4 linked regions of the Homo sapiens genome follow. The protein of the gene in region 1 interacts with the protein of each later gene in a pairwise test. Each region holds a gene or a part of one and is shown in the gene's direction. Other genes may lie near its edges. The genes, in order: C10orf62, KRTAP1-1, FXR2 and KRT40.

Evidence for each region.
Region 2: the proteins of C10orf62 (region 1) and KRTAP1-1 interact in binary tests that used the Homo sapiens proteins (3 or more experiments, as listed by UniProt).
Region 3: the proteins of C10orf62 (region 1) and FXR2 interact in binary tests that used the Homo sapiens proteins (3 or more experiments, as listed by UniProt).
Region 4: the proteins of C10orf62 (region 1) and KRT40 interact in binary tests that used the Homo sapiens proteins (3 or more experiments, as listed by UniProt).

What each region holds. Positions count from the first base shown.
Region 1 is NC_000010.11:97,584,956-97,591,434, forward strand, and holds C10orf62 (uncharacterized protein C10orf62), read left to right. Parts: upstream 1-4,765; 5' UTR 4,766-4,942; coding exon 4,943-5,614; 3' UTR 5,615-5,979; downstream 5,980-6,479.
Region 2 is NC_000017.11:41,039,828-41,048,371, reverse strand, and holds KRTAP1-1 (keratin-associated protein 1-1), read left to right. Parts: upstream 1-6,921; 5' UTR 6,922-6,974; coding exon 6,975-7,508; 3' UTR 7,509-7,831; downstream 7,832-8,544. Other genes in the region: KRTAP2-1 (keratin-associated protein 2-1), read left to right, coding at 1,105-1,491. UniProt on the Homo sapiens protein: In the hair cortex, hair keratin intermediate filaments are embedded in an interfilamentous matrix, consisting of hair keratin-associated proteins (KRTAP), which are essential for the formation of a rigid and resistant hair shaft through their extensive disulfide bond cross-linking with abundant cysteine residues of hair keratins.
Region 3 is NC_000017.11:7,590,891-7,600,042, reverse strand, and holds the end of FXR2 (RNA-binding protein FXR2), read left to right. Parts: intron 1-4,048; coding exon 4,049-4,219; intron 4,220-5,285; coding exon 5,286-5,364; intron 5,365-5,695; coding exon 5,696-5,805; intron 5,806-6,038; coding exon 6,039-6,125; intron 6,126-6,417; coding exon 6,418-6,640; intron 6,641-6,861; coding exon 6,862-7,059; intron 7,060-7,148; coding exon 7,149-7,349; intron 7,350-7,443; coding exon 7,444-7,539; intron 7,540-7,688; coding exon 7,689-7,789; intron 7,790-7,885; coding exon of another isoform or gene 7,886-7,921; exon of another isoform or gene 7,922-7,977; intron 7,978-8,117; coding exon 8,118-8,213; 3' UTR 8,214-8,813; downstream 8,814-9,152. UniProt on the Homo sapiens protein: mRNA-binding protein that acts as a regulator of mRNAs translation and/or stability, and which is required for adult hippocampal neurogenesis. Specifically binds to AU-rich elements (AREs) in the 3'-UTR of target mRNAs.
Region 4 is NC_000017.11:40,975,063-40,981,326, reverse strand, and holds the end of KRT40 (keratin, type I cytoskeletal 40), read left to right. Parts: exon of another isoform or gene 1-2; coding exon of another isoform or gene 3-26; exon of another isoform or gene 27-175; coding exon 176-337; exon of another isoform or gene 338-416; coding exon 417-542; exon of another isoform or gene 543-2,302; coding exon 2,303-2,523; intron 2,524-3,030; coding exon 3,031-3,130; 3' UTR 3,131-3,612; downstream 3,613-6,264. UniProt on the Homo sapiens protein: May play a role in late hair differentiation.

The sequences.
Region 1 (6,479 bases):
TGGCCCTTTAGCCAGAGACCAAGGGAGGGTACACAGGCTCTGTCAAGCTGTCCAGGGATAGTCTGGTACTCAGTGGGTCATTTTATTATGGGAGAGGAACAGGGGAGACTGGTCTGGAGTCAGGAGACAGGCAGGAAGCTCCACGCTGGCCTGTAACCTTAAGCTAAACCTCACCTGCTTCAGTTTACCCAGCTGTAAACTGTTAAAGTGCCTTTGTAGCTCCCAGAGTGATTCTGAGGTTGGACTGGATAATGGGCGTGAAAGTCCTTGTCAACCTTGTCACTTGGTGCAGATGTGAAGGCATGTGGCTGGGGTCACGTGGCAGCCCAGCCACAGTCCCAGTTCCCTCCAAAGTTTGTTTGTACATTCTCTTCTGGACAAAGCCTCCTTGCCAGAATTAGTTCTCCTGTGACCCCTTGGCTCCTGTGACTCCTGTTGTGGCTCCTGTGACCCCATCTCTCTTTACACATGGGTCTCCCCAACTCTGAGGTTAGGGACCAGATGATATTTGCAACAATCAACATGTAACAGAGTCCCAGGCACAATAAATGAAGGTAGAAGAAAATGTCAAATTCTGCCTGCCCTGCTCCGCCCATCCCCATTCCTTACTGCACAATCCCCTGAGGCAGTGCTCTCTGTAGGACCATCCCACAGATGGGAATCTGGGCCTCAGAGTGACATGGTCACTGCCCAAGGTCATTCGGCTAACACATAGCTGAGCTGAGGTTTGCACCTCGTCTGACTGCATGGCCCATGCTCCATTTTACTCCCTCGCTGACTCTCATTATAAACCCTTTGGAGCTGCTAGGCCACACTATTTCAACGGAGTGTCTGGTCAGCACTAGCTTTGTTGTGGCTGCTATTGAGGCAGTATCGTGTAGACTGTGGACTCTGGTTTCAAATCACAGCTCTGGAGTGAGCGCCTGTAATCCCAACACTTTGGGAGGCCGAGGCGGAGGGATCATGAGGTCAGGAGTTCAAGACCAGCCTGGCCAACATAGTGAAACCCCGTCTCTACTAAAAATGCAAAAATTAGCTGGGCGTGGTGGTGTGTGCCTGTAATCCCAGCTACTCGGGAGACTGAGGCAGGAGAATCGCTTGAACCCGGGAGGCAGAGATTGCAGTGAGCTGAGATCATACCATTGCACTCTAGCCCGGGCGACAGAGCAAGACTCCATCTCAAAAAAAAAAAAAAAAATCAAATCACATCTCTGGCACTGACTTAGTGTGGGATGATTGCTGTCCCTATCGGACACATGGGAGTGATAATGCTCATATTATGGGATGGTTGGACAAAAAAATCTGAGAGAATGCAAGTGAAATCGTGCTATAAATTGTGGAGTAATATACATTGGAAGGTACTGATTCCAATGGTAATAATGATTAAAATGACAGTGTGATTGGCATTGCAGCAAAGCTGCTTTGTGACTGTGACCCCTGGCCTGATGGACACGTTGATCATTCATAGCTCAGTACTGAGGGAATGTGCCCCTTCCTTGGGGACAATGAATGCCCTGTGGAGGGCCACGTTGAGCAGGGCACAACTGTTAGGTTTCTGCTGGTGCTTGGCTCGTGGGGCCTGGAGGTTTGGTGAGGTCCTGGTTCTCTTGAAGTGAGAAGCATTTTGAGCCTCTAAGTGAAGACCTTACTTCAGCTTCAAGGTTCAAGGATGCTCTAGTTCAGGGTGGGGAGGGTGGACTTTGCATCTGGTGTTTGCCTGACACCCAGAGAATCCACAGAGACCCCCAGACTCTTCTCTGGACCCTCCCTTCTGGGCCACCCACCCACTCTTGCAGAGGGCATGGGGTGCCCAGGAGCACAGGCTTCCGTGGATTTAGCAGGCTGTGGGCTGCACATACCCACTTGTCTGTCTCCCTCGCAACCTATGCAGGCTCCAGCTCCCATCTGATCACTCACCCACACACCAGAGAGCCAGCGGGGTGTGGTAGGAAGAGCCCAGCATCTTGAGTTAGAGGACCTGGGCAAGAATCCTGCCACTTCTGCCAGTTAACAGAGACCTTGGGGAAACCACTTAACCTTTCAAATCCAGTCCTCATTTTAGAATAGGAACTGAGCCTTCAGGCTTCTAGCCACAGGGTCAATATAATCCTCCCAAGGCACTGTCACAGAAAACACAGAGATAGAGGGTCCCTTCCCTGCTTCCAGGGTGCAGCCAAAATGCCCAGGAAGGAAGACACAAACAACTTTAGCTCTGAAATCTGTGTTTCTCTTGCCCTGTCCTGGCCCCTGAGGTAGACTTTGCAGCCCAACACTCAGGCTGAGGAGGGAACGTATCACATTGTAAGGGCCTCCTGCAGCCAGTTAAAGGTCCTCTGAAGAGGAGATGAGGGCCAGGCACAGTGGCTTACTCCTGTAATCCCAGCACTTTGGGAGGCCAAGGCAGGAGGATCTCTTGAGACCAGGAGTTGGAGACCAGCCTGGCCAACATAGTGAGACCCTGTCTCTATTAAAACAAATAAATAGGAGGTGGAAAGCTGCCCTGGATGAATCAGTGAAGAGTTAGAGATTCTTCTGGAAAGCACTCCCTGAAACTGTGTAGCTTTTTTTTTTGAGACAGAGTCTTGCTCTGTCGCTCAGGCTGGAGTGCAGTGGCATGATTTGCCTCACTGAAACCTCCGCTTCCTGGGTTCAAGCGATTCTCATGCCTCAGCCTCCTGAGTAGCTGGGATTACAGGTGCCTGCCACCACGCCTGGCTAATTTTTGTATTTTTAGTAGAGATGGGGTTTCACCATGTTGGCCAAGCTGGTCTTGAACTCCTGACCTCACGGTCCGCCGGCCTCGGCCTCCCAAAGTGCTGGGATTACAGGCGTGAGCCACCGCGCTGGGCCTCTTATTTATTTATTTATTTTTAAGATGGGGTCTCAGTCTGCCACCCAGGCTGGACTGCAGTGGCACGATCTCGGCTCACTGCAACCTCTGCCTCCTGGGACTAAAGCAATCTGCCCATCTCAGCCTCCCGAGTAGCTGGGACCAAAGGTGCACACCACTATACCCGGCTAATTTTTTGTATTTTTAGTAGAGATGGGATTTTGCCGTGTTGCCCAGGCTGATCTCGAATTCCTGAGCTCAAGTGATCTGCCTGCCTCTGCCTCCCAAAATGCTGGGATTACAGGCATGAGCCACCATGCCCGGCCCCGTGTAGCTCTTTTTAAAAAATCTTTTTAGCATTGCTAATTTGTACTGATTATTTGAATAGAGAGTATTCTTTTTGTTTTTTCTTTCTTTTTTTTTTTTTTTTGTGATGGAGTCTTGCTCTGTCTCCCAGGCTGCAGTGCAGTGGCACGATCTCGGCTTACTGCAAGCTCTGCCTTCCAGGTTCACGCCATTTTCCTGCCTCAGCCTCCTGAGTAGCTGGGACTACAGGCTCCCACCACCATGCACGGCTAATTTTTTGTGTGTGTGTGTGTATTTTTAGTAGAGATGGGGTTTCACCGTGTTAGCCAGGATGGTCTCAATCTCCTGACCTCGTGATCGTCCGCCTCGGCCTCCCAAAGTGTTGGGATTACAGGCGTGAGCCACAGCGCCCAGCCAAGAGTATTCTTTTTAAATAAAAATTATGACCAGAGACTAGAGGAAGGGGTCATTACAGAAGGGCTCTATGGCCCTGAACTCACACCCATAAACACCCTCAAAGATGGACTTTGAATTGTTATTTCCAAATGAGGTTAGCCAACCACAGAACTAGTCCAGCAGGACTGGGAAGATGAGGTTCTCCATAAAACACTTGTGTCCTATTCCTTCCATACATAGAGTGGACCATGCTTTCTTGCAAAGATATAATATTTTGTATATATTAAAACCATTACTCTGTTAAAGAAAATATTTTGTTTAAAGCATCACAATGTTTACAACCCCATTTTGGCATTTCTTATTTTTTTTTAAATGGGCTAGATGCTTTTGAGGGGAAAAAAAAATACAGTGGCCCAGGCCTGTTTATACCCTGAGAGGCCTTGGAGATTAATTAGGCTTTTAGTTGTCTGCACCTATGGAAAGCCTGGCCAGCCAGCCCACCTGCTCACAACCCGAACCATGCCTATTTATGGGGGGGCAAATTCTGGGTTTGTAGGTGCCTCACTAAGGCAAGAGGTAGCAGCTACCATCCCGGAGTGGCCCCAGGGATCTAGACCCGATGAAGTCTCCTGTCCACTCTGCCTTCTCAGCCCACTGCTTGCCTCTCCACCCTCAGCCCATTGTGACCTCATGTTAGTTACTCCAGAATGAGCTCCTTCCTGGGTTCTTTTCCCTCTGAACTCTGCCCTGTAGTGAGGCGAGGGGCTGCAAATGAGGATGGAATATGCCAGGCTGGCAGCAGACATGGGCACTGGATGGAGGTGCACTGGTCTCAGATGGCTAGGAATGGATACCAGCCCAGTCAAGGGGATCATTCTGTCATGGCCAGCCTGACCCAGCATACTTTGCCCCCTGGGGGCCACCAGATGGGGAGAGAGAGAAACCAAAGACTGGAAGATACAAAGGCCTAAGTTGTAGAATGGATTCCAAGCAGAAGGCAGAAGGACTCAGAATTGGAGAAGCAGCCCTTTCACTGAGCCTGGGGACAGCTGTCAGGGTAGGAGACAGGACCCAGGCCTCAGGCAATGCCTGCCAGGCTAGACATGAGGGATGCTGCGGCCTCTCCCCACCCCACTCTCCCCACCCCACCCGCAACTGCCTTCCTCACAATGGGGTTCATTGTTGAGGTGGTGGGGGGCACCTAGGGAGGGTGCAGCAGGGGGCCTGCCTGTCAGACATCCTTGGGGAGCCTGCCCTTTCAAGCATGAATCATACCACCAGAGATCACCCAGCGTGCTCTTAGCTCTGCCTGCCTGGTGTAGGGTCCTGGAGACCTTCTTGGAGCTCATCCAGCAGCCATCATGCAAGGTGGTGCTGGGGACTGCCCTCTTGCTAGGAGGTGGAGGTCTCATGCTGTGGGTTCAGAGAAAGAGGAGAAGAAAGGAAACCTCTGAGTGTCCATCAGACAAGGACAAGTCACCAGAATCCCATAAAGCAAAGAATGAAAGCTGGATTAAATCCCACTTTAGCCGCCTTTCCGAAGAGAAGCTGGCCCTCGACAACAATGCCAGCGCTAGTGGCAATGCTACCCAGACTGAGAGTGGGAGTGAAGAGGTCAGCTCCACGGTTCACATAGAGACCTTCACCACGAGGCACGGAGAAGTGGGCTCCGCTCTGCACCGGGAATCCTTCACCAGCAGGCAGAAGACATCTGGGCCCTCAGTGATCCAAGAGATCCACCAGGAGTCTGGAAAAGCCCCATCCACTGATGAGGCCACGTGGGCCGCTGTGGCTGCCTGCACCAAGGAGATTGACACCCAGGGGCGGCACCTGGCTCACTCCATGCTGCAGCGGGCCATAGCTTACCAGCACTCAGGTCACCTAGAGTCCAAGGACATCAACCAGGAGGAGCTGAGGGCCCTCGAGGAGGTAGAGATGAAGCTGCAAAAGAATTTCCTCACCCAGCGGGAAAACACCATAGCTGGTGCCAATCACACACACACCTTCTATGGCCACAGTCACCACAGTCACCATGGCCACCCAAGCCACCAGAGCCACAGCCTGCCTAATCGCAGACACTAGATCTGTGACTTCTTGGAAGCCACCTAACCATGGATGGAGACGCCCCTGCCCCCAGCAAGGCTGGCTCACACACACGTCTGTTTTCTCTCCTATGGGGCCATCTATGCAGGCCAGGGTGAGATGCTGTGCCCAAATCCCTACTTTCTTAGGCTCCTCACGGGGATTATGGGCTCTTTAAACTCCATGAGTGGGGTCTGCCACAGAAGATGGCCCCTGTTGGAGGGAGAGCTGGGAGGACACAGCGCAGGTGAGATAGACCCTGAGGCCCCTGAAGACCCACCAAGAGAAGACAGATGGGAGCAGGCAAGAGCCCCACACTGATGTCATTGCCTGGAACGGAGCCAATAAAGCTTTGTGTGCCTTCACTCTGAGTCCAGGGGCTCTGTGGGCAGCCTAAGGTCTGGCAGGGATGGAGGGAGGGGGCTCCCTCTCCAGCAGTCCTCTGGAGTGGAGTGGAGAAAAGGCCCCCGACCTGGGGCCTTTTCACTGGGCCTCATTTAAAGCTCCATAAAACAGCTACCCTGGTCTCAGGTTCTGGAAAAGGGGTACCTCTAGACGTCTCAACACCCCCAATCTGATGTTGCCAGGGAAGAGGGGAGCAGCCAGGTATTGGGCTTGGAGGAGAAACAGGCTTTCAGAGGAGAGTAACTAAGCCAGGTGGGAATGAGGGCCCCTGTCGTCTTGGTGCTATCTTTGCTCTCAAGTCATGTGGCATCCTACAAGGCAGTTCTCTCACCAGCCCCACCTGCTTCCTGGGGCCCCTTGGGATCCATGTTAGTACCTCCCCACCACCTAAGTCTACAGCTACTGAGTGAGCACAACACTTTCTTCTTGTTTGTTTAACTTAATTTAATTTAATTTAATT
Region 2 (8,544 bases), on another chromosome or scaffold:
AAGTATATATGCATATTTCTTTTTTGAGATGGAGTCTCACTCTGTAGCCCAAGCTGGAGTGCAATGGCATGATCTCGGCTCACTGCAACCTCCGCCTTTGGGGCTCAAGTGATTCTCGTTCCCCAGCCTCCGGCACAGCTGGGACTACAGGCACTGCCACCACACCCAGCTAATTTTTTGTATTTTATTAGAGTTGAGGTTTCACCATGTTGCCCAGGGTGGTCTTGAACTCCTGAGCTCAGGTGATCCACCTGCCTTGGCCTCCCCAGGTGTTGGGATTACAGGCATGAGCCACTGCGCCCGGCCAACAAGGTATATTCAGAAAAATTTCCCATTACAGAATTCTTCATTACATGCACAAGAAAGGCAACGCTAAAAAATGACATGTTTCAGAGATAAAAATCAGCATCTTATGACAGAAAGACCAGAGTTGCACAGAACCTGAACTAGAGAAAAGAAAACATGCAAGGCAGTCTTGGAGGTTTTATTCCAACACTTAGTGGTTTGCAAAAATTTTTGTCTGTCCTGTACAACTCTATGAGCTGCTATCCTATTCAAGGCCTATGTATCCCACTATATCAAGTGATAATCAAACGTATTCCCAAGCAGACTACGTGGGAGGGCTTGTCTAACACTCGTGTGATTCACGTTTCACATGTAGGTGCTTCCAAGGACTTGAGTCCCCTATTGGGGTCAGGATAGGCTCTACTCAATGTTCTATGTACTTCTCTATGTTTTTAATTTCTTTTAAAAACTGAAGTTTTTTTAGACCGTTTTGTCCAGATTTGATCCAGTGTTATCTACTCAAAATAAGCATCAAGAGCTACTATCACCTCAAATGACGATGAGTTCTTAGATTTTCACCCAATGTGAGTACATCCATACTTAGAGATAAAACAAGAGCTCTTTAGTGAGATAATGAGTGTGTCACAAGCAACCATTAGTCAAAACAAAATTCTACTTAATTGGCCAAAAGGTAAACGAAAAGGGTCACCTGCACCCGGCCAGGGTATATAAAGGGCCCAGAGGGGGAGGAGGACATTCACACCTGAGAACATCCAGCTCCTCTCCACAGCCCAACCCACACCAGCCTCAGACACCACCATGACCGGCTCCTGCTGCGGCTCCACCTTCTCCTCCCTGAGCTACGGGGGAGGCTGCTGCCAGCCCTGCTGCTGCCGCGACCCCTGCTGCTGCCGCCCCGTGACCTGCCAGACCACCGTGTGCCGCCCCGTGACCTGCGTGCCCCGCTGCACGCGCCCCATCTGCGAGCCCTGCCGCCGCCCGGTGTGCTGCGACCCCTGCTCCCTGCAGGAAGGCTGCTGCCGCCCCATCACCTGCTGCCCCTCGTCGTGCACGGCTGTGGTGTGCAGGCCCTGCTGCTGGGCCACCACCTGCTGCCAGCCTGTGTCTGTGCAGTCCCCCTGCTGCCGGCCCCCCTGCGGCCAGCCGACCCCTTGCAGCACCACCTGCAGGACCTCCTCCTGCTGAGCCACCACCTGCTGCCAGCCTGTGTCTGTGCAGTCCCCCTGCGGCCAGCCGACCCCTTGCAGCACCACCTGCAGGACCTCCTCCTGCTGAGCAGTGCACTGACTGCCCGGAACGCGTAACTCACCTTCTGAAAAAGTCACACTCCCATTTCTCTACTTTAACAAACCTCCTGCCCTGAGCCCACAAAACCCCACATCAACCAAGCAGGGAACCGAGCACTGGGCTCATCTATTAAGACCTGGGCCATTCTGAAGTCTGTAAAAGAAGCAATTTCCTTCTTCTTAAGATTTCGTGGCATGTTTATTTTCTAATAAATATCTGTTCTTTGGCCTTGCAAAAAGATTTGGTTTTATTTACTCATTCTAATATTTTGTATTAAATTAATTTTTTAATTAAAAAAACTGACACATAATTGTACATATTTATGGGGTGCAATGTAATGTTTCCATACATGTATACGTTGTGTAATAATCAAGTCAGGGTGTTTAGCATATTCGTCACCTCATACATTTATCATTTCTTCATGGTAAGATCATTTAAAATATTCTCTGATCGCTATTTTGAAATATATGATAAAATATTACTAACCACAGTCACCCTACTGTACATTAGAATACCAAAACTTATCCCTCCTATCTACCTGTAACTTTGTACCTGTAGACCAATCTCTGCCTATCCTCCCCTCCTCTCACCCTCCCCAGCCTCTGGTAGTCACTATTCTACTCTCTACTTCTATGAGATCAACTTCTTTAGATTTCACATAGGAGTGAGTGAATGTGCTATTTGTCTTTCTGTGCCTGGTTAATTTCACTTAACATAATGTCCCCCAGGTTCATCCATGTTGCTGCACATGACAGTATTTCATTCTTTTTCATGGCTGATAGTATTTCATTGTGTGTTTGGGTGTGAGTGTGTGTCACATTTTCTTTATCCATTCATCCATTGATGAACACTTAGATTGTTTTCATATGTTGGCTGTTGTGAATCGTGCTGCAATAAACATGGAAGTGCAGAAATCTCCTCAACATACTGATTTCATTTCCTTTGCGTATATACTCAGTAGTGGGATTCCTGGATCACATGATCGTCCTATTTTTAATTTTTGGGGAACCCTCCATACTGTTTTCCATAATGGCTATACTACTTTACATTCCCTCTAACCTTGTATGAGTTCCCTTTTTTCCACATCCACACCAGCATTTGTTATCTTTTTGTATTTTTGATAATAGCCATTCTAATTGTGGTGATATGGTATCTCATTGCGGTTTTGATTTGCATTTCCTGATGATTAGTGATGCTGAGCACTTCTTCATATATGTGTTGGAAATTTGTATGTTTTCTTTTGTGAAATATCTATTCAGGTCTTTTACCTATTTTTAATTGGATTTTTTATTATTATTCACTGTTGAGTTGTTCAAGTTCCTTATATATTCTAGATATTAACCCCTGGTCAGATGCATAGTTTGAAAATATTTTCTCCCAAATTTTTGCAATCTACTCATCTGACAAAGGGCTAATATCCAGAATCTACAAAGAACTCAAACAAATTTACAAGAAAAAAACAAACAACCCCATCAATAAGTGGGTGAAGGATATGAACAGACACTTCTCAAAAGAAGACATTTATGCAGCCAACAGACACATGAAAAAATGCTCATCATCACTGGCCATCAGAGAAATGCAAATCAAAACCACAATGAGATACCATCTCACACCAGTTAGAATGGTGATCATTAAAAAGTCAGGAAACAACAGGTGCTGGAGAGGATGTGGAGAAATAGGAACACTTTTACACTGTTGGTGGGACTGTAAACTAGTTCAACCATTGTGGAAGACAGTGTGGCGATTCCTCAGGGATCTAGAACTAGAAATACCATTTGACCCAGCCATCCCATTACTGGGTATATACCCAAAGGATTATAAATCATGCTGCTATAAAGATACATGCACATGTATGTTTATTGCAGCACTATTCACAATAGCAAAGACTTGGAACCAACCCAAATGTCCATCAATGATAGATTGGATTAAGAAAATGTGGCACATATACATGGAATACTATGCAGCCATAAAAAATGATGAGTTCATGTCCTTTGTAGGGACATGGATGAAGCTGGAAACCATCATTCTCAGCAAACTATCACAAGGACAGAAAACCAAACACCGCATGTTCTCACTCATAGGTGGGAATTGAACAATGAGAACACTTGGACACAGGAGGGGGAACATCACACACCGGGGACTGTTGTGTGGTGGGGGGAGGGGGGAGGGATAGCATTAGGAGATATACCTAATGTAAATGATGAGTTAATGGGTGCAGCACACCAACATGGCACACGTATACATATGTAACAAACCTGCACGTTGTGCACATGTACCCTAGAACTTAAAAGTATAATAAAAAAAAAAGTACCAAAAAAGAAAATATTTTCTCCCATTCTCTAGGCTGTCTCTTCACTCTGCTGATTTGATTGTTTCCTTTGCTGTGCAGAAGGTTTTAATTTTATATAATCCCATTTGTTTACTTTCACTTTTGTTGCCTGTGCCTTTGAGGTCTTATCCCCCCAAGAAAAAACCATTGCCCAGACAAGTGTCATAAAATGTTTCCTGTGGGTTTTCTTCTAGTTGTTTTATTATATGTGGTCTTATATTTAAGTATTTAATCCATTTTGGGTTGTTTTTAAATGAGTTAAGAAATAGGGTCTAAATGTGCTGCTTGCCTACCATATGCAAGTCACAGGCTATATGGTATAAAATAGAAAGTAAAATTGAATTAAAAATGTTCCCATCTTCAAAAAGATTCTAGAGACATGAGTCATATTCACCTATAATTCATCTAAAAACTAGAATATTAAAAAATAAAAGTACAACACTGTGTGGTGTCAACACAGAAGTCACTGTTGGTTGGGGAAAATAAGAAAGATTGAAAAGAGAAGCTAACATTTTATATAGGTTCAGATTGTGGTGTCCAGATCACAGGGATGGCATTCTCAGCAATAGAAATAGTATGAGCAAAGGTGTGGAGGGAGGGGAACCATAGGGTTGTTCAGAGTACGGTTTGGCTGGGGGCACTGGATATATATAGAGTGATAATGAAAGAAAGATTTGGAAAATTTGTATGCTTTGAATACTAGCCAACGGAGTACACCCTTAATGCAATAAGCAGTAAGGAGTTGTTGAAAGCTTTGGGGCAGGAAAATGGCATAACAAGAGCAGGGCATTGGGACAATTCTCATGATAGCTCCTTATAAAGACAGAGGTCAAAGGCCAGAGAAATGAGTCGTACAGAACTATACAGAAACTAATCAGGAAGATATTGCCTTGGTCAAGTGATTACAATAAGAGCTCAACTAAGATAATACCCATGGAATAAAGAAGACACAATGAGTATAGCAGATGTAGAAACCCAGAAAGTATATTAACTTAGTTGAATGTGGGAAACAAAAAACAACTAGGAGGCAAATGTGACTTATTCCAATTATAAGTCTCTGGTCCAGATACTTAAAAGAACTTTAACATATTTGTACTTATTTATTGTGTATTTAAAATCACTACTCCATAGTGCCATCTCTCTACCATCTAATATTTCTATTCTTGTGCTATTACAAAATACCTTTTTTTTTTAGAAAAAAAGACAAAGACAAAGAGCCTTACTAACATTAATTGATTCTGAAAAGCAGCATGGTATAAAATAAAAAGAACTGGTCTAGGAACAAGTGATAGGAATTTTATACCCAGCTCTTCTGGTTGTGTACTGTGTGAATGGAACAAGCCACTTAACCTCTTCAAGACTCAAGAGTATTCTAACATCAGCCGATGTTAAGTGAAAATGAAAAGTGCTCCATAGCACATCACCAATGTTCCCATTTAGAACTTTGAGACTAAATGGTTCTATACTCAACTCTTTTCCTTGATTAATCCCTCCTATTGCTACTACACTGATTTTTATACTAGAGCAAGATACAAAACAAATAGATGGGATCTTGCTTTCTGTATAAGCCTTTAGTGCTCTGGGCATAGTAGAAGTTAATAAATATGTGCTATTTATAATAAGAATGATGTCAGTTTCTACACCTATAAAATTAAGTGGTGGAACAAGATAATTTACTACATTTTTGATCTCCAACATTCATTGATTACATATAACCATTTTCAACTTCATACCTACAGTCATGGTTACCATATGACGTGAACATCTTTACTGAAGCTGGCATGAATCACATTGTGATATAACCCCATTCCTGTACAAACAAATGCCACCACCTCATAAAAAGCTAACTATGTGTTTCTATTCATGATTGGAAGGGAGAAATAAACCTACCCCAAGTAGAAATAATATGTTTTTGACCAGCCTTTTTTCATTTATCTCACGTAACCCTAAACTCCCAGTGAAAATTACATTCTTTCTTCTGGCAATGACCAGGAATTGTTTTAACTTTTATTTTGCTGAAATTTTTCTTAATCTCTTTGCATTTATTATACTACACCTCTTGAACTATATTTGGTCACCCATTTTCTAACCTGCCTTATAAAGCAGATAAAAGTATTTTCTAACTCTTGCTTTTTCTTTGATTTATTCCCTTTCCTAAATTCAGTTGTCATGCTCTTTGGTCTAATATCTTTTCACAGGACACATGGTTTAGTAACTTGAAATGACATAAATTAAAATTAAATTCTGCCTTTGAAAAATTATATGCCAGATAATCCATATACAAGTGATTTTTGTCTTTCATAGAGAAGTGTAAATTTTGTTAAAATATTTTGCAATTTTTTCCAATTACTGAATATGAATTTTAGCCTCTTTTTTAAGAGACATTGAAATTGAACAGGTTTTGTTTTATATATCCTCCTGAGTGATCAATGTTTCCTAAAATATGAATGTGAAGTTCAGGAGATATCACAGAAATTGGAAAGATTCCATTTCAGGGAAAAATCTATGAATTTCTATGAATATAGAGTTTATCAGAGTTTCTATCTGGCTAATAAGATTATATCGAGAGAGGATAATCTTATTAGTCTAAAAAATACAAAGCAGTCTTACATAAGGGCAATCATGATTAATAATTCTTTTCTGGAGACCTGAGGTTTGGTGAATATGATCTCCAAAATCACATCACCTTATGGGTGAGAGTCACTTTGTCAGGTGATATACCCACAAGTGCAAACCTGAAGCTGAAGCTCAAGTGGAAATTATACCATTGTTTGTAAACAAAATGTTAACATTTTTACCAAGGACAAACACATTTGGTGAGTATTAGCTGAGCAATAAGGAAAAATCAATTTTGAGATATATTTAAAACAATTCAGCATTTGAACCATCAGAGGGCCCTAGAAAGGCTGGTTTAAAGAGTAACAAGATAAAAATGTTGCTCGCCACAAATAGAGGAATTGGCCCAGACTTATAAAAAGCCGGCAGTGGAATAGGCAGCCATAATTCAGAAACTCCTCCAAGCAACCCAACCTTCAGATCAACTCCTGACACCATGGCCTGCTGTCAGACCAGCTTCTGTGGATTTCCCAGCTGCTCCACCAGTGGGACCTGCGGCTCCAGCTGCTGCCAGCCAAGCTGCTGTGAGACCAGCTCCTGCCAGCCACGCTGCTGTGAGACCAGCTGCTGCCAGCCAAGCTGCTGCCAGACCAGCTTCTGTGGATTTCCTAGCTTCTCAACCGGTGGGACTTGTGACTCTAGCTGCTGCCAGCCAAGCTGCTGTGAAACTAGCTGCTGCCAGCCAAGCTGCTACCAGACCAGCTCCTGCGGAACTGGCTGTGGCATTGGTGGTGGCATTGGCTATGGCCAGGAGGGCAGCAGTGGAGCTGTGAGCACCCGTATCAGGTGGTGCCGCCCAGACTGCCGTGTGGAGGGTACCTGCCTGCCCCCCTGCTGCGTGGTGAGCTGCACACCCCCATCCTGCTGCCAGCTGCACCACGCCGAGGCCTCCTGCTGCCGCCCATCCTACTGTGGACAGTCCTGTTGCCGCCCAGTCTGCTGCTGCTACTGCTCTGAGCCCACTTGTTGAAAACCTCCTTCTGCTGGGGATCCTGATAAGATGGCACCTTAAAACTAGCCAAATTAGAATCCTAACAATCTTCTGAACTCCAGTACCTATAACTGGGCTTGCAACCTCTCATCACACAGCCACATAAATTCCCTAGGAAGTAAATTCATTTACAATGGAAGACCAAAAATTTTTCCTAGACCTGGTTGTCAGCCAAAGTCCTACAATGTGAAAAGAGTTAGATACTATTTTACTATAAATATCACCTGAAATATTTCAACAGTTATTGGGACTTAAATTTAATAAAAGTTTTCATCTCTTCAATGATGAAGTTGTTGTTTGAACTTTCTTTGCTTTGGAATTTATTAACAATATTGGGGTACTGGGATTTTTCAAAATATCAACATGACATGACACTATGGTTTTTCTGTACTTTTGCTCTTTTAATGATGATATTTAACAGCAATTTTCCTTTGTTTTACCATTAAATGGTCCAATATTTTGCAGCCAAGACATATGATTAAAGGAACTTGACAACATTTAGGAACTGTTTCCTAAGGTCCTCTCATGTGCAAAGTGGTGGGCTAGGTATTCCAACAGATTGATTCAGCTTCTTGAGGTTTTGCCAAATCTATTCATTCATCCATTCATATATGAGGTTGTATACAATTATTTCTGTCCTCCAAGATATACAAAAGCATAATAAAAATTGTGAAAGAATACAAACACAAGATTACAGAGTAATAGCATGTAACGAATATACACATTTCATTCAAGGTCTAGGCTCATAACTCCCATAGCCCTTTTATTGATGTTAGGGCACTTTACACTTCAGAAGCAGGCCTCAGAAAACAGAATCTCTCTCTCTCTCGCTCTCGCTCACTCACTTGCTCTTGCTCTCTCTCTCTCTCTGGCCTTCTCCCCACCTCTTTTCACCTGCTCCTTTTACTCCTCAAGGCAAGAATCTTCCCCCACTGTTCTTGGCACTGGCCATCAAGATATTCTCCTACCTACCTTGCCTGATTGTAGGTCATAAGATCCCCATTTCAGAAGAGGT
Region 3 (9,152 bases), on another chromosome or scaffold:
GCCTGTTGTCCCAGCTACTCGGGAGGCTGAGGCAGGAGAATCGCTTGAACCTGGGAGGCGGAGGTTGCAGTGAGCCGAGATCACACCATTGTACTCCAGCCTGGGCAACAAGAGTGAAACTCCATCTCAAAGAAAAAAAGGATATTTCTTGTTTTTTTGTTTGTTTTTTGAGATAGCGTCTCTGTCGCCCAGGCTAGAGCGCAGTGGCGCTATCTTGGCTTACTGCAACCTCCACCTCCCAGATTGAAGCGATTCTCCTGCCTCAGCCTCCCAAGTAGCTGGGATTACAGGTGTGTGCCATCACACCTGGCTAATTTTTGTCTTTTTTAGTAGAGATGGGGTTTCACCATGTTGGCCAGGCTGATCTCAAACTATGGACCTCAGGTGATCCGCCCACCTCGACCTCCCAAAATGTTGGGATTACAGGTGTCAGCCACCACGCCTGGCCTGACTAGAGTATTTCTGTGAGATCTTTTTGAATTCTGACATCGTATAATTGTCAGATTCCCTTTCGTTGGTATTATACTATTCTAAGTGAATAGGGTGTGTGTGTTTGAATACCATTTCCATTTATCAAGGGAATTGATCTTTTTGGGAGGCTTTTTTCTGTGCCTGTGCAATTTCTGGGTCATGATAATCTTTGACTTCTTCAGGGATCCTGCTCAGGGCACTGGCAGGTAAAAATTCACCATTACCTTCAGATGATACAAACTTTATTTTTTGTTTTTGTTTTTTGTTTTGAGATGGAGTCTCAGTCTGTTATCCAGGCTGGAGTGTATGTAGTGGTGCGATCTCAGCTCACTGCAGTCTCTACCCCCCGAGCTCAAGTGATCCTCTCACCTCAGCCTTTGGGTGGGTGGGATTACAGGTGCATGCCACCATACCTGGCTATTTTTTTTTTTTTTTTGGAGACAGTTTCCCTCTGTCACCCAGGCTGGAGTGCAATGGCACAATCTCCGCTCCCTGCAACCTCTCGCTCCTGGGTTCAAGCGATTCTTGTGCCTCGGCCTCCCAGGTAGCTGGGATAATAGGCACGCGCCCCCACGTCTGGATAATTTTTGCTTTTTTAGTGTTTCACCATGTTGCCCAGGCTGGTTTTGAACTCCCGACCGCAGGTGATCCACCTGCCTTGGCCTCCCAAAGTACTGGGATTACAGGCATGAGCCACTATACCTGGCCCTAATTTCAGTATTTTTAGTAGAGACGGAGTTTCACCATGTTGGCTAGGCTGGTCGCGAACCCCTGGCCTCAAGGGATCCACTTGCCTTGGCCTCCCAAAGTGCTGGGATTATAGACATGACCCATTGCACCCGGCCTAATTTTTGTTGTTGTTTTTTAATTTTTTGAGACGGAGTCTCATTCTGTCGTCCAGGCTGGAGTGCAGTAGTGCGATCTCAGCTCACTGCAGCTTGTGTAGTTAGCGCAGAGTGAGCAAAGGGAGACCGATACAAAATTCGGTCAGAGAGTAGATCATGTAAGACATGTACGGTAGGCTGAGGAGGGGGGATTTTATTGTGCGTATACTGAGAAGCCATTGAGTTAACAGTGCCTTCTGGTTTTTTGTTTTGTTTTGTTTTGTTTTGTTTTTGAGACGGAGTCTCGCTCTGTCACCCAGGCTGGAGTGCATTGGCGTGATCTCGGCTCACTGCAAGCTCCACCTCCCAAGTTCACGCCATTCTCCTGCCTCAGCCTCACGAGAAGCTGGGACTACAGGCGCCTGCCACCACGCCCGGCTGATTTTTTTGTATTTTTTTTTAGTAGAGATGGGGTTTCACCGTGTTAGCCAGGATGGTCTTGATCTCCTGACCTCGTGATCCACCCACCTCGGCCTCCCAAAGTGCTGGGATTACAGGCGAGAGCCACTGTGCCCGGCCGAAAGTGCCTTCTGTTTTAAACTCCTGTTTCAATGACAGATGGAAAGGGGGGCAAGAATGGAAGCAGGAACAGAGCACAGTAGTCCAGGTGAGAAACTTGAACTGGAGTGCTAAAGGAAGAGAGAGAGAGTAGTTTTATGTAGGATAAATTTTACGAGTAAAACCAGTAGGACTGACAGGCTCTGTGATACTGAGAGATACATATTTGGTCTCCTGACCAGGCTCCTGGCATTCAACTTCTAAAATCCTTGGAATCTCCAGTGATGTGTGTTTTTGTGTGCTGATGAGTTGATTCATGGCTAGCCCCTCTAGGTGGCTTCATGATTAGAGGGTTGGAACTTTCAGCCTCACCCCCACCAACTTCCTGGGAGGGGAATGGGGCCAAAGGTTAAGGCAATCACTGAGGATCAGTGATTTAATCAGTCATGCCTAGTAGTGAAGCCTCTAAAAACCGGAAAGGGGCCGGGTGCAGCGGCTCACGCCTGCAATCCCAGCACTTTGGGAAGCCGAGGCAGGTGGATTGCCTGAGGTTAGGAGTTTGAGACCAGTCTGGCCAGCATGGTGAAACCCCTTCTCTACTAAAAATACAAAAAAAGGGAGGCAGAAGTTGCAGTGAGCAGAGATCATGCCACTGCACTCTAGCCTGGGTGACAGACCCCATCTCAAAAAAAAGAAAAAAAAAAAAGAAAACCCAGCTGTTCTGCAAGCTTATCTAGAAGACGCTTATAGGTCATTGTAGATCTCTTCCCCTCCCCTCCTAATGTAGTGATTTTGAACACTCAACTTAGTTTATTTTTCCAACTTTCTCTTCTTGCCTGGTATAAATCCTTGGTATAATTCAGTCCTATCCAACTTGGAAGTGGGAAGTAGTGTATTTCAATCTAGGAATGTCTCCTTTCAGGTATTGTTTCTATTTGGTGCTTACAACATGGGATTCACTCCTCTAAAACCTTTCCTGTCTTCCTGCCCCTGAACCCAGGGGTTCCTCTAAGGACTGATTGAGAAATGAAGTGAAAGCCTGGTGTTCTAGAGGCATGTTTTCTGTTTTTCTTAACCCCTCACTTTTTTTTGAGACAGAGTTTTGCTCTGTCACCAGGCTGGAGTGCAGTGGCATGACCTCGGCTCACTGTAACCTCCAACTCCCTGGTTCAAGCAATTCTCCTGCCTCAGCCTCCCAAGCAGCTGGGATTATAGGCACACCCCACCAAGGCCAGCTAATTTTTGTATTTTTAATAGAGATGGGGTTTCACTATGTTGGCAGGATGGTCTTGATCTCCTGACCTTGTGATCCACCTGCCTCAGCCTCCCACAGTGCTGGAATTACAGGCGTGAGCCACCGCGCACAGCCTACCCCTCACTTTTTACTTAAGTTGTTGAGTTTTATTTGGGGATGAGTTGATATTTGTTTGATTAAGGTAAGAGTTCCTTACACTTGCATGTACCTTGTGAGAAGTACTTTCACACCAGCCTTGTCTAATCCTCTTGCTAGTCTTGAGAATAAGATAAGTTGGATATAATCACTTAGCAGATGACACAAGAGGCAGAGTATGTTTTGTTTAAGATCACACAGATAGATACTCTTAGGGACAGATACTGTTAGGGCCAAATCCAGAACTTCGGTGTGTCCCAGTCCAAACTCTGCCCTCTTTACCTTTCCTCCCCCACAAACCACTGGTATTTGGAAGGAGTGGAATTAAAAGTTCCTGACCTTGGCCGGGCGTGGTGGCTTATGCCGGTAATCCCAGCACTTTGGGAGGCTGAGGCGGGCGGATCACCTGAGGTCAGGAGTTTGAGACCAGCCTGGCCAACATGGTGAAACCTTGTCTCTACTAAAAATACAGAAATTAGCCAGGCATGGTGGTGGACACCTGTAGTCGTAGCTACTCAGGAGGCCGAGGCATGAGAATCACTTGAAGTCGAGAGGCGGAGGTTGCAGTGAGCTGAGATCGCGCCACTGCACTCCAGCCTGGGCGACAGAGCGAGACGCCATCTCAAAGAAAAAACAAAAAGTTCCTGACCTTTCCACACAGGTCCTCGTGGTCCGCGGACTCCAGAGTGGTTCTAGCTTTCTATTAATATCACACAGTTTTCCTTATTTAAGTTATGCAAAGGGTCGTGTGCCTGGGACTGTGAGATTCTACCACCATGATTCCTACAGTGACTTTTCCTTTCAGACAAGCAAGCAGTTGGCAGCAGCCTTCCAAGAGGAGTTCACAGTGCGAGAGGACCTGATGGGACTGGCAATTGGGACTCACGGTGCCAACATCCAGCAGGCCCGAAAAGTACCTGGGGTGACCGCCATTGAGTTGGGTGAAGAGACCTGCACTTTCCGCATCTATGGGGAGGTCAGCAAAGGATGTCTTTCTTCTGGGTCTCTTAGGGGATAGAGGGAAGAGAGGCCGAAGTAGAAAATAAGCCTCAAACTGGGCACAGTGGCTCACACCTGTAATCCCAGCACCTTCGGAGGTCAAAGTGAGAGGATCACTTGAGCCTAGGAGTTTGAGACCAGCCTGTGCAACATAGTGAGACCCAATCTCTACAAAAATTTAAAAATTAGCTGGAAGTAGTGGTGCGTACCTGTAGTCGCAGGTACTTGGGAGGCTGAAATGGGAAGATAGAGGGGAGGATCACTTGAGCCTGGGAGTTGGAGAACAACCTGGACAACATAGAGAGACCCTGTCTTTACCCCCCAAAAAAACCAAAAACCAAAAAACGTTAACTGAGCGTGGTGGCATGCATCTGTGGCCCCAGCTACTTGGCTACTTGGGAGGCGGAGGCAGGAGGATCACTTGAGCCTGGAAAGTCAAGGCTGCAGTACACCATGATGGTGCCACTGAACCAACCTGGGCAACATAGTCAATAGAGTGAGACCAAAAAATCAAAAAAATAGACCAGATCTCTGTTGCCCAAGCTGGTTGTTAACTCCTAGCCTCAAGCAATCCTCCCTTCTTAGCCTCCGAAACTGTTGAGATTATGGGTGTGAGCCGCTGTGCCTGGCCAAGGTCCTCTGTTTTTTTTTTTAAGTTATTTATTTGTTTAATTTTTTTTTTTTATGAGATGGAGTCTAACTCACTCTGTTGCCCGGGCTAGAGTGCAGTGGCACAATCTCAGCTTATTGCAACCTCTGCCTCCTGGGTTCAAGAAATCTCCTGCCTCAGCCTCCGGAGTAGCTGGGATTAGAGACGTGAGCCACCAATTTTGTATTTTTAGTATTTTAGTATTTTTGTATTTTGATTTTTGTATTTTTAGTAGAGATGGCGTTTCACCATATTGCCCAGGCTAGTCTTGAACTCTTGAGCTCAATTTATCCACCTGCCTCCAGCCTCCCAAAGTGCTGGGATTACAGGCGTGAGCCACCACATCCAGCTGGTCTTCTGTTTTAGTAACAACTCCCTGCTGTTCTTCCTTTAGACTCCCGAGGCTTGCCGACAGGCCCGAAGCTACCTTGAGTTTTCTGAGGACTCAGTGCAAGTGCCCAGGAACCTGGTTGGTGAGTTGGTGGTGTGTATATACAGTTAGAGGTCAGAATCAAGATTCTCTACAGTGATTCTGAGCTTTTATCCAGGATTGGCACCTCCCTGTGGACTCCCAGTTTCACAAGGACAGAGAAACAGTCTGTAATGGGAGTGATAAAAATGAAAGAATAAATTTCTAGGGATTGTAACATTTTGTCCTGTAAAAACACATCAGAAACCTAGAAGCAGGAGAATGAAGTAAATGGAATCCATATAAAGAAAATGAGGCTGGAAGACGGTGTATCAGCTTTATTCTTATTTCCTTAAAAAAAATAAAAGGCTGAATTCCTCATTTACCTATTCCAGGCAAAGTGATTGGAAAGAACGGGAAAGTGATCCAGGAGATTGTGGATAAATCTGGTGTGGTGAGGGTTCGAGTGGAAGGTGATAATGACAAGAAGAACCCCAGGGAGGAGGTATGGGTACGGGGCAAGTGGGCATAGAGATTGGTTTCCAGAAGTAAATGGGATTGTCCTCTGAGGGCTGGGATTGTTCTTTGAGAGGGTGGAGTACGGAAAGTTGTTTAACACTAGTAGATTTAGAGCCCAGAATGATCCCACTGGGCAGGCTCCCCTAGGAGACTGGGCGGCGTTAATCCTTCCATTTCATTTTCCTTTCTGATCCATCGTTTCTGCTCTCTGTTCTCTAGGGAATGGTTCCCTTCATTTTTGTTGGCACCCGAGAGAACATCAGCAATGCCCAGGCTTTGCTGGAGTATCACCTCTCCTACCTGCAGGTACCCAGGCCGGGAGAGAAAAATGCTGGGTGTGAAAAGGGAACTAAGACTGCTGTGGGGGTCAGCTCAGGGATTTTGGTTCTCTGTTTGTCTCTCCGTGTAGAACAGAAAACATCTGTGGAAATTTGGGGCTATAGGGTTGGGTCCCAGAATTTTCCTTGTTTAGCCAGTGTCTTCCTTCTCCCTGCATTCCTGAGAGGTTAGATATAGAGGGACAGTCAGGGTGCAGAAGCATGAAGCAAGGCACTGATCTTATTTCTCCTTCCCCTTCTTCCATCTTTTACCCAACCAGGAGGTAGAGCAGCTTCGCTTGGAGAGGCTACAAATTGATGAGCAGCTTCGGCAGATTGGGCTGGGCTTTCGCCCTCCTGGGAGTGGGCGGGGCAGCGGTGGCAGCGACAAGGCTGGATATAGCACTGATGAGAGCTCCTCCTCCTCCCTCCATGCGACTCGAACCTATGGGGGCAGCTATGGGGGCCGTGGCCGTGGCCGGAGGACAGGCGGTCCTGCCTATGGTGAGACAGTTATGGGAACAGGAGGCAAGGAGTGGCAGGGCTTGTGGGTAGAGGCAGAGGTCTGGATGGAAGTTTGGGGAAATCTGGAATGGAGATGATGAAAAAGTGATTGATTGGCTGGGAGGCTTGTGAGTGAGAAGGAGAATTCTTCCAGTTTGGGGGATGTGATGGATCCTGAGGTGGGATGAATGGCCGTGAATAAATCCCATTGTGTTCTTCAGGCCCCAGCTCAGATGTGTCTACAGCTTCAGAGACTGAGTCAGAGAAGAGAGAGGAGCCCAACCGAGCTGGGCCTGGCGACAGGGATCCCCCAACCCGAGGGGAAGAAAGCCGGAGGCGGCCGACTGGGGGCCGGGGTAGGGGACCCCCACCTGCCCCCCGGCCCACTTCGAGATACAATTCTTCATCTATTAGCTCAGGTACCAGACAGCTGGGTTCATGAATATGGGCCAAAAGGAAAGATGATGGGCACCTGACTGCCAACTCCTCCTCTTCTTCCTCTGACCAGTGCTGAAGGATCCAGACAGTAATCCCTACAGCCTATTGGACACGTCTGAACCAGAGCCCCCGGTTGATTCAGAACCTGGGGAACCCCCCCCAGCAAGTGCCAGGCGCCGCCGCTCCCGCCGCCGCCGCACTGATGAAGACAGGACCGTCATGGATGGAGGCCTGGAATCAGATGGGCCCAACATGACAGAGAATGGCCTGGGTGAGGGTGTGCCTGGGGTCTGGAAAGTTAGAGATGGGTAGGAATCGAGGGTGGGAGGTTGGATGTGTGACTCTGGTTTTTTCCTACCCTACAGAAGATGAATCAAGACCTCAACGTCGTAATCGCAGCCGCCGCCGCCGTAACCGTGGTAATCGGACTGATGGCTCTATCAGTGGAGACCGCCAGCCAGGTCAGCCAACTCTGGACACCAGAATCCTTCCTCAGAGCTGAGAGAATGGGATGCTCACCCCTGTGAAAATCAGGGGTTCGGGTTCAGTGGGTGTCTTAGGCTGGCTACCAGAATTCCATCTGAAAGTCTTAATCTCCTGCCTTCCCCAGTGACTGTGGCTGACTATATCTCACGAGCAGAGTCTCAGAGCCGCCAGAGGCCACCCCTGGAACGCACTAAACCCTCAGAAGACTCTCTTTCAGGACAGAAGGTAGGCAGGCAAGATGTGCTTTACCCCATCCCTTTTTTGTTGTTACTCTGGGGCAGGGGGCACAAAAAATTTCACAAATCTCCTACTGAATTGCAGAGGCAGCTGTGTCTGATGGAGTTTAGACCAGTGTAAACTTTGAATAGGATAGAGAAGAAAGTGTGGTTCACATTTTCTGGATCCCAAGTAAGAGAGACTGGATCATGAGATCAGGGAACCAACCTCTGGATCACCAAATGCCAGGAGGGCTTGGATGGTAGGGAATGTCTCCCACCTGAATTTCTACTCACCGCTTCTTGCTTTTCTGTTTTCTTTCCCACTTTCCCCTCAGGGTGACTCTGTCAGCAAGCTTCCTAAGGGCCCCTCGGAGAATGGGGAGCTCTCCGCCCCCTTGGAGTTGGGTAGTATGGTGAATGGGGTTTCATAAAACCTCCAACCTGCACCCCTCCCTTCTCCATCTCGCTTGCTGCCCAACACCATGGCCCTCACAGGCCCAACTGACCTGCGCTGGAGCTGCTCTTATCTAGGGGGGAGGGGGGTGGCACAGCAGCTTGGGTACCCCCCAACCTCCAGGAGCTAGTGGAGGGGTGTGTAACAGGGTCATACCCCCTCCCTCTTGTCCACCCTACCCCCAGGGTAAGGGGAGCCTCTCTCCTTCCCCATCAGACTGGATGTGCCTTTATCCTCTAATGCCCCAATCTCTCTCTGAACACCCCCATTCTCCACCTGTTGGTGGGGGGTGCTCCTCGACCCACCCAGATTTGACCGTTCAGGGGGCCTCCCCTGCTATCCCTCCTCCCATCCTGTACCCCCCATTTCTGGGGCCTCATCACTGTGGAAGACGGGGATAGTAAGAGATAAGTGGGTGGGAGGCACGGGGAAGGTTTTGGAGTAGAACCAGGGGTGTGTATGAAGGGGGGTGACAAGGTCCCCCTGGGGAGGGGACCAACCTTGTCTGGTGGATGAGAAGGCGTATTTATTTTTCACTGTACAGTATTTAAAAAGAGAATAAAAAAATCCAAATGGCTGTCTGGCTCCTGTGCCTTCTTTGTCCCCAGTTTGGTCCATTTGTTTCTCTAGGACTGACCTGCCCTGGCCCCTGGCTCTTGTTTTCTGTTCCTCCACATCTGACTTCTCTTCATTGTCTCTTGTCCCAAAGATGGTCTTACTTCTGGGAATTCCTGACATTCCTAAACTCCCCAGGCCCAGGTTCTCCCTCCTGGTTCAGAGGAGGGGGGCTTGTGCCTTGTTGCTTCTCCCCTCCCCCAAGTTTGCTGGTAGAGGGAGTTGGGCCACTCCTATACCCTGAGTCACAGCACAGGCTAGGCAGGGCTGCTCAGAGCTGGAGCTGTTCCTGTAGAAGCTG
Region 4 (6,264 bases), on another chromosome or scaffold:
AGACGAAGAAACTGAGGCCCTTCTAAGTGGTGAAAAGAGATTCAGCCCAGGCAATCTGAATCAAAATCTCACACTTTTACCCACTGCTCCAAAAAACAGAAGTAGAATGCCATTGGATGTCAAATGGATTTTTCCCCACCATTCTGTGACATTCTTTACACCATCCCACTTTCAGGAAGTCAACTTGCTTCGTGAACAGCTTGGCGACCGCCTCAGTGTGGAGCTGGACACTGCCCCCACCCTTGACCTCAACAGGGTCCTGGATGAGATGCGCTGTCAGTGTGAAACGGTGCTTGCCAACAATCGCAGAGAAGCTGAAGAATGGTTGGCTGTTCAGGTCAGTACCCAGATTGAAAAAATGTCAGGCTTACAGACTTCTGCCTTTTTTGAATTCTCTAATGGTGTCTGTGTTTCAGACAGAAGAGCTGAATCAGCAGCAACTGTCCAGCGCGGAGCAGCTGCAGGGCTGCCAGATGGAGATCTTGGAACTGAAACGCACAGCCAGTGCTCTGGAAATTGAGCTCCAAGCACAGCAAAGCCTGGTGCGTGAGGCAAAGGCAGTGTCCGTTGTGTCACTGATAAGTCAGGCCCTGAGATGTTAAGCCCTCTTCCATATCCGAGGATCACATTTCCTTGCCTTTCCCGAGTACTGCCGTTTACCCAGCTATTAATAGAAGCAGAAGTGACAGGTCCACAGCTTGTCCTCTAAGATGCCTTACCTTCACTCCTGGGCTTGAGTCTGATGCTGCAGCAGCCTCCAGAGACAGGGAGGGAGAAGCAGAGCTGGAGAGAAACCTCCGGGCCATGGTCGCTTAAGCATTCTGGCAGGTTTTAATTCTCATTTGATTCAGGCCAGTTTTCCAGGCTCACTGTTATATCTAAAACAAAGAATCATTTTCAAACATTTCATCCTACAGTTTCCCAGGATCTACACTTCAACCTTATCCTTCACTGCACCACCCCCCACTCAAGCAACAGGAACACCATGCGTTCAAGATGACATGAACCAGTTCTGGTCAAGCACCACTGTGTGCATGTCATTAGGCCCTGCGGAGAACACCTAGAAGAACAATAGCTGAGCATTCATCCTGTGAGAGGCACTATGCTGATTTAAGGCTCACAGTAACTTTACCGGATAGATACCTTTATCCCATGACACAGATAAGGAAAACTGAGACTCAGATTAAGTAACTTGCAAAGGATGCAATTCTAAGAGGCAAACTTGGAAGCTGAGTTCAGCCAGTTGAATCCCAGAGTCTCTTCTCTCTCTCTTTTTAAATTTATTTTTATTGATATATAATATGCGTAAATTTTTTTTACGTAGATGTGATATTTTGTTACATGCATAGAATGTGTAATGATCAAGTCAGGATATTTAGAGCATCCATCACCTCAAGTATTTATCATTTCTATGTGTTGGGAGCATTTCAAGTCCTCCCATCTAGCTATTTTGAAATGCACAGTGTATTGTTGTTAACTGTAGTCACACTTCTCTGCTGTCCAACATGAAAACATATTCTTTCTGTCTAACTGTATGTTTGCACCCATTAACCAACCTCTCTTCATCCCCTTACCACACATATGCCAGTCCCAGCCTCTGGTATCCAGAGCCTCTTCTCTTAATAGCACTATACTACCCCTCCCTGCCAAGAGCCCAAACTCAATCTTTCCTCTCATATGTTGTGGATAGTCCTTAAGCTTCACAAATATGTCATGTATTGCTGTAGTCATAGTGGTGGTAGTGATAGTTGACACGTAGAACAGTGGCAGTATGGCTGGCACTGTTCTAAATGCTTTACGCACATTAACTCTTTTTTTTTTTTTTTGGACGGAGTCTCCCTCTGTCGCCCAGGCTGGAGTGCAATGGCATGATCTTGACTTACTGCAAGCTTTGCCTCCCGGGTTCACACCATTCTCCTGAGTAGCTGGGACTACAGGCGTCCACCACCGTACCCAGCTAATTTTTTATATTTTTAGTAGAGACGGGGTTTCACCGTGTTAGCCAGGATGGTCTCGATCTTCTGACCTTGTGATCCGCCCGCCTCGGCCTCCCAAAGTGCTGGGATTACAGGCCTGAGCCACCGCGCCCAGCCCGCATATTAACTCTTAATCTTCACAACCGTCTAATGAAACAGATACTTTGTATTCTCCACTATACAGAGAATAAAACTGAGACTCACAGAAGCTAAATAATTTGCCAGTGGTCACATAGCTAGAAAAGGGTAAGCAGGAATTTGAAAGTAGGCACTCTGGCCCGAGAGACTGCACTTCATGGTCCTTTGGACAATGTTTCCTCCCGCAGACAGAATCTCTGGAATGCACCGTGGCAGAAACCGAGGCCCAGTACAGCTCCCAGCTGGCCCAAATTCAGTGTCTGATCGATAACCTGGAGAACCAGCTGGCCGAGATCCGCTGCGACCTGGAGCGACAGAACCAGGAGTACCAGGTGCTCCTGGACGTGAAGGCCCGGCTGGAGGGTGAGATCAACACGTACTGGGGCCTGCTGGACAGCGAGGACAGCAGGCAAGTTCCACAGTTACTCATGAAATCCCCCAGAGTCACAAAGAGGCTGATGTAAAAGAATCCTGTTTCCCCAAAGTCTGGACAAGTTCAGACCTCCCCAGTGTGTTTAGGGATCTTCTTAAAAAAGTGCTGAAAAGTGGCTGAGGTTAAGAACATGACACTAGAGATATTTTTAAAATATTCTAAAGGCAGATTAATTATTAGTGTAACATTTCATGCTGGCATCTCCCTTTGTTCCTGTTTTCCACTAAAGGAAAATCAGGAATAGGCCTAAGATAACATTTGCAAAATCAAGAAAAAATATAAAATACTATTCAACTGCCACTGCTACAGTGAACATGAAGTGGCAATTCTGGGTGCAGAGAAGAAACAGGCTTCAGTCAATGCTATTGTGCAGAGTTTTTTTCAGAACATAATTTGTAGGGCAAATTTTGACACGGTTTTTCTGAGTTGCCATTTTATCAACATTCCCTTGTTAATCTTGGTTGAAAATCGATTTTTCCCCAGGCTTTCCTGTAGCCCATGTTCGACCACATGCACCTCGAGCAACACTTGTGAGCCATGCTCAGCCTATGTCATCTGCACTGTTGAAAACTGCTGCTTGTGAATGTTAAGGACAGCAGGTAGAGGAATCAAAGCCAGCAGCATCCTAGAAAGGAGATGGGGCTTCAACCAGGGACATCCAAACCGGAAGCACAAATCCAGGAGGCTCTCATATCCTGGAATTGCCCTCCAGGTATCCTCAGTCTTTCTGCTTTACTATTTCCTCTCCTTCCGGCTTATTTGTGGTATACTGGAAGCCCATAAAGCATTCTTGCTCATCTCCAAATAAAACGTGTTTTATTCCTTTAGCGTGGTAAATATAGCTCTATGGCTGATTACTGTTGATAGAATATTCATTTTATGGCAAGGAAATCATCTAAACCCATAACCATAGTTTCAATGTACATAAACCCAGGCTGAAAATATTTTTTAACTCCTCAAATACAAATAAATTAATGAACCCATGAGAAATGTCATATATCTTAGAAAATAGTTGTGTGTATCTTTCTGAGGAAAAATATTAGGAATAAAATATGATAAAATGTATTTTTTGATTATAAAAGTACTAGATTCTCTTTTTTTAAATTTGGCTCATTAAAAGGGAAAAGGTCACTTATGATTTCATCTTCCAAACAGCCATAGTCAATATTTTGGGGTACTTTCTTCCAGTTTTCTTTCTTATAATAGATTTTTCCACACAGCTATAATCATACTAACATATGCACACACTTGTGTAAACTTTCTTTCATTTATGTCATCTAAGCATTTTTAATTCTAATAAAAACATAAGATTGTATTGTAGCCATCACTTTTTTTATTTTTTATTTTTTTTTTGAGACAGAGTCTTGCTGTGTCACCCAGGCTGGAGTGTAGTCACACTATCTGGGCTCACTGCAACCTCTGCCTCCTGGGTTCAAGCGATTCTCCTGCCTCAGCCTCCCAAGTAGCTGGGACTACAGGTGTCTGCCACCACACCAGGCTAATTTTTTTTTTTTTTTAGTAGAGACAGGGTTTCACCGTGTTAGCCAGGATGGTCTCAATCTCTTGACCTTGTGATCCACCAGCTTCAGCCTCCCAAAGTGCTGGGATTACAGGTGTGAGCCACTGCACCCAGCCTGTAGCCATCATTTTACTGGTTGCATAATGTACCATAAGGTACATTGATCTGTTATTGGACATTTAGGTTATAAGAATAATTATTCTCATATATTTAAAAAACAAGGTAGAGAACTTCCAGAATGATGTATATTTCCATATTCCTCCTCCTAAAAACCCTGGAAATTACATATCAAATAAACATAAGAGGACTCTGAAAGGTAGAAGAAGAAGCCAAACCACCTAAAGATGTTGAGACTCCAGGAGTGACACTGTGGTGAGCTCCCTGGATTAGCTTTTTATCTCATATATCCCAGAGGGGGAGCTGGAGAAACCAACAACCAGAAACACCAACAGGTGCAGACAAAACAAACAAACAAACAAACAGAAAGAGCTTGCTCTGCTTAAAGAACCAGAAAAGAGGCAGCCTAGAAAGGCGGAAAACCTTTAGACAATAACCACTCAACTCAGCCAAACACCACAGAAAATATCATTTCACCCACCCATATCCACACAAGGAAAGGCCAGGTGGGGAGTCCAGACTTCTATCCTTCCCAGGCTGTAATAAGGCACTCAAACTTCACCACTGGGGTGGAATCAGGGAAGGCTAAGTGAGAGATCCAGGACTTTCATTCCTACTATGAGACATGGAAGCACTCCCTGTCCCACCATCATGGTATCAGTGGAGACCACACGGGAAGCCTGGACTTAACTCTACAGGCTGCAGTGAGGCTCTTCTTTTCTCCTCTGGGGTTAGTGTCACAAGAGTCCTACTGGACAGTCAGAACTCTTTCCCTCCTCCAGCAGTACCAAGGCCACCCCCATGCAGTGTCAGTGGAAGCTGCATGGGAGCAATAACAAGATATTCCTGCCCCTCCTGGCCAGGGTGGTATCAGCAGAGGCCAGGTAAGGAGTCTAAAATCCTCCCTCCCAGCAGTGATGAGGGGGGCTCTCCCCTTGGGTGTCAATAGGGGCAAAGTGGAGAGAACCTGTATTTCTACTCCCACCTGGTAGGAATGAAGCAGTGTCCCCCTTCCCCTGCCAAAACAGTGTCAGAGGAGACCTGCTAGAACATAAGATTAAACAGTATCCTGAATCTCATAACATAATGCCCCAATGTCCAGGTTTCAATCAACAATTGCTCTTTATACCAAGGATCATAAAATCTCAACTTACAGGAAAAAAGATGATCAACAAATTCAAACATCAAGAGGAAAAAGACGTTAGAATTAACTGACAAGGGTTTTTAACTTTTTATTTGTTATTTTTCTGGGTACATAGATGTATATATTTATGGGGTACATGAGATGATTTGACACAGGCATGCAATGTGTAATAATCACATGGAGAATGGGGTGTCCATCCCCTCAAGCATGTATCTTTGGTGTTACAAACATCCAGTTACACTATTTTACTTATTGACAATGATTTTTAAATAGTCATCATAAAAATGCTTCAGTAAGCAATGCTTCAATAAACTCTTACAACAAATGCAAAAATAGAGAAGACTCAATGAAGAAGATGGAAAGACTCCAGTGGAAATTTCAGAACTGAAACATACCATAGAACCAAAATAGAAACCTCAATGGAGATGGGCTTAACAGCAGAATGCAGGCCAGAGAGGAAAACATCAGGGAATTTGATGATACAATAATAGACATCATCCGACCTGAAAAACGGAAAAAAAATAGTGTTAAAAAGATAGAGTCTCAGGGAATTTTGGGGCTATATCAAACGATCTAACATTCATGTCAGTGGAGTTCTGTAAGGGAGGAGAAAAAGTGAAGCCAAAAACATTTGAAGGAATAAACACTGAAAATTTACAAATATGGCAAAAGACAAAAACCTACAGATTCCAGAAACCAAGCAAACCCCAAAAATGATAAACCCTAAGAAATCTACACCAGGAAATATCATATTCAAACTTTTGAAAGCTAAAGACAAAAAAAATTATGAAAGCAGTGAGAGAGAAATGACACCTTACCAATAGAAGAAAACAATTTAATTGATGGCAGGTATGTCACCATAAACCATGGAAGCCAATATGAAGTAATACAATAGTTTTCAAATGCTAAAAGAAAAAAAAAAACTGTCGGCCAGGCG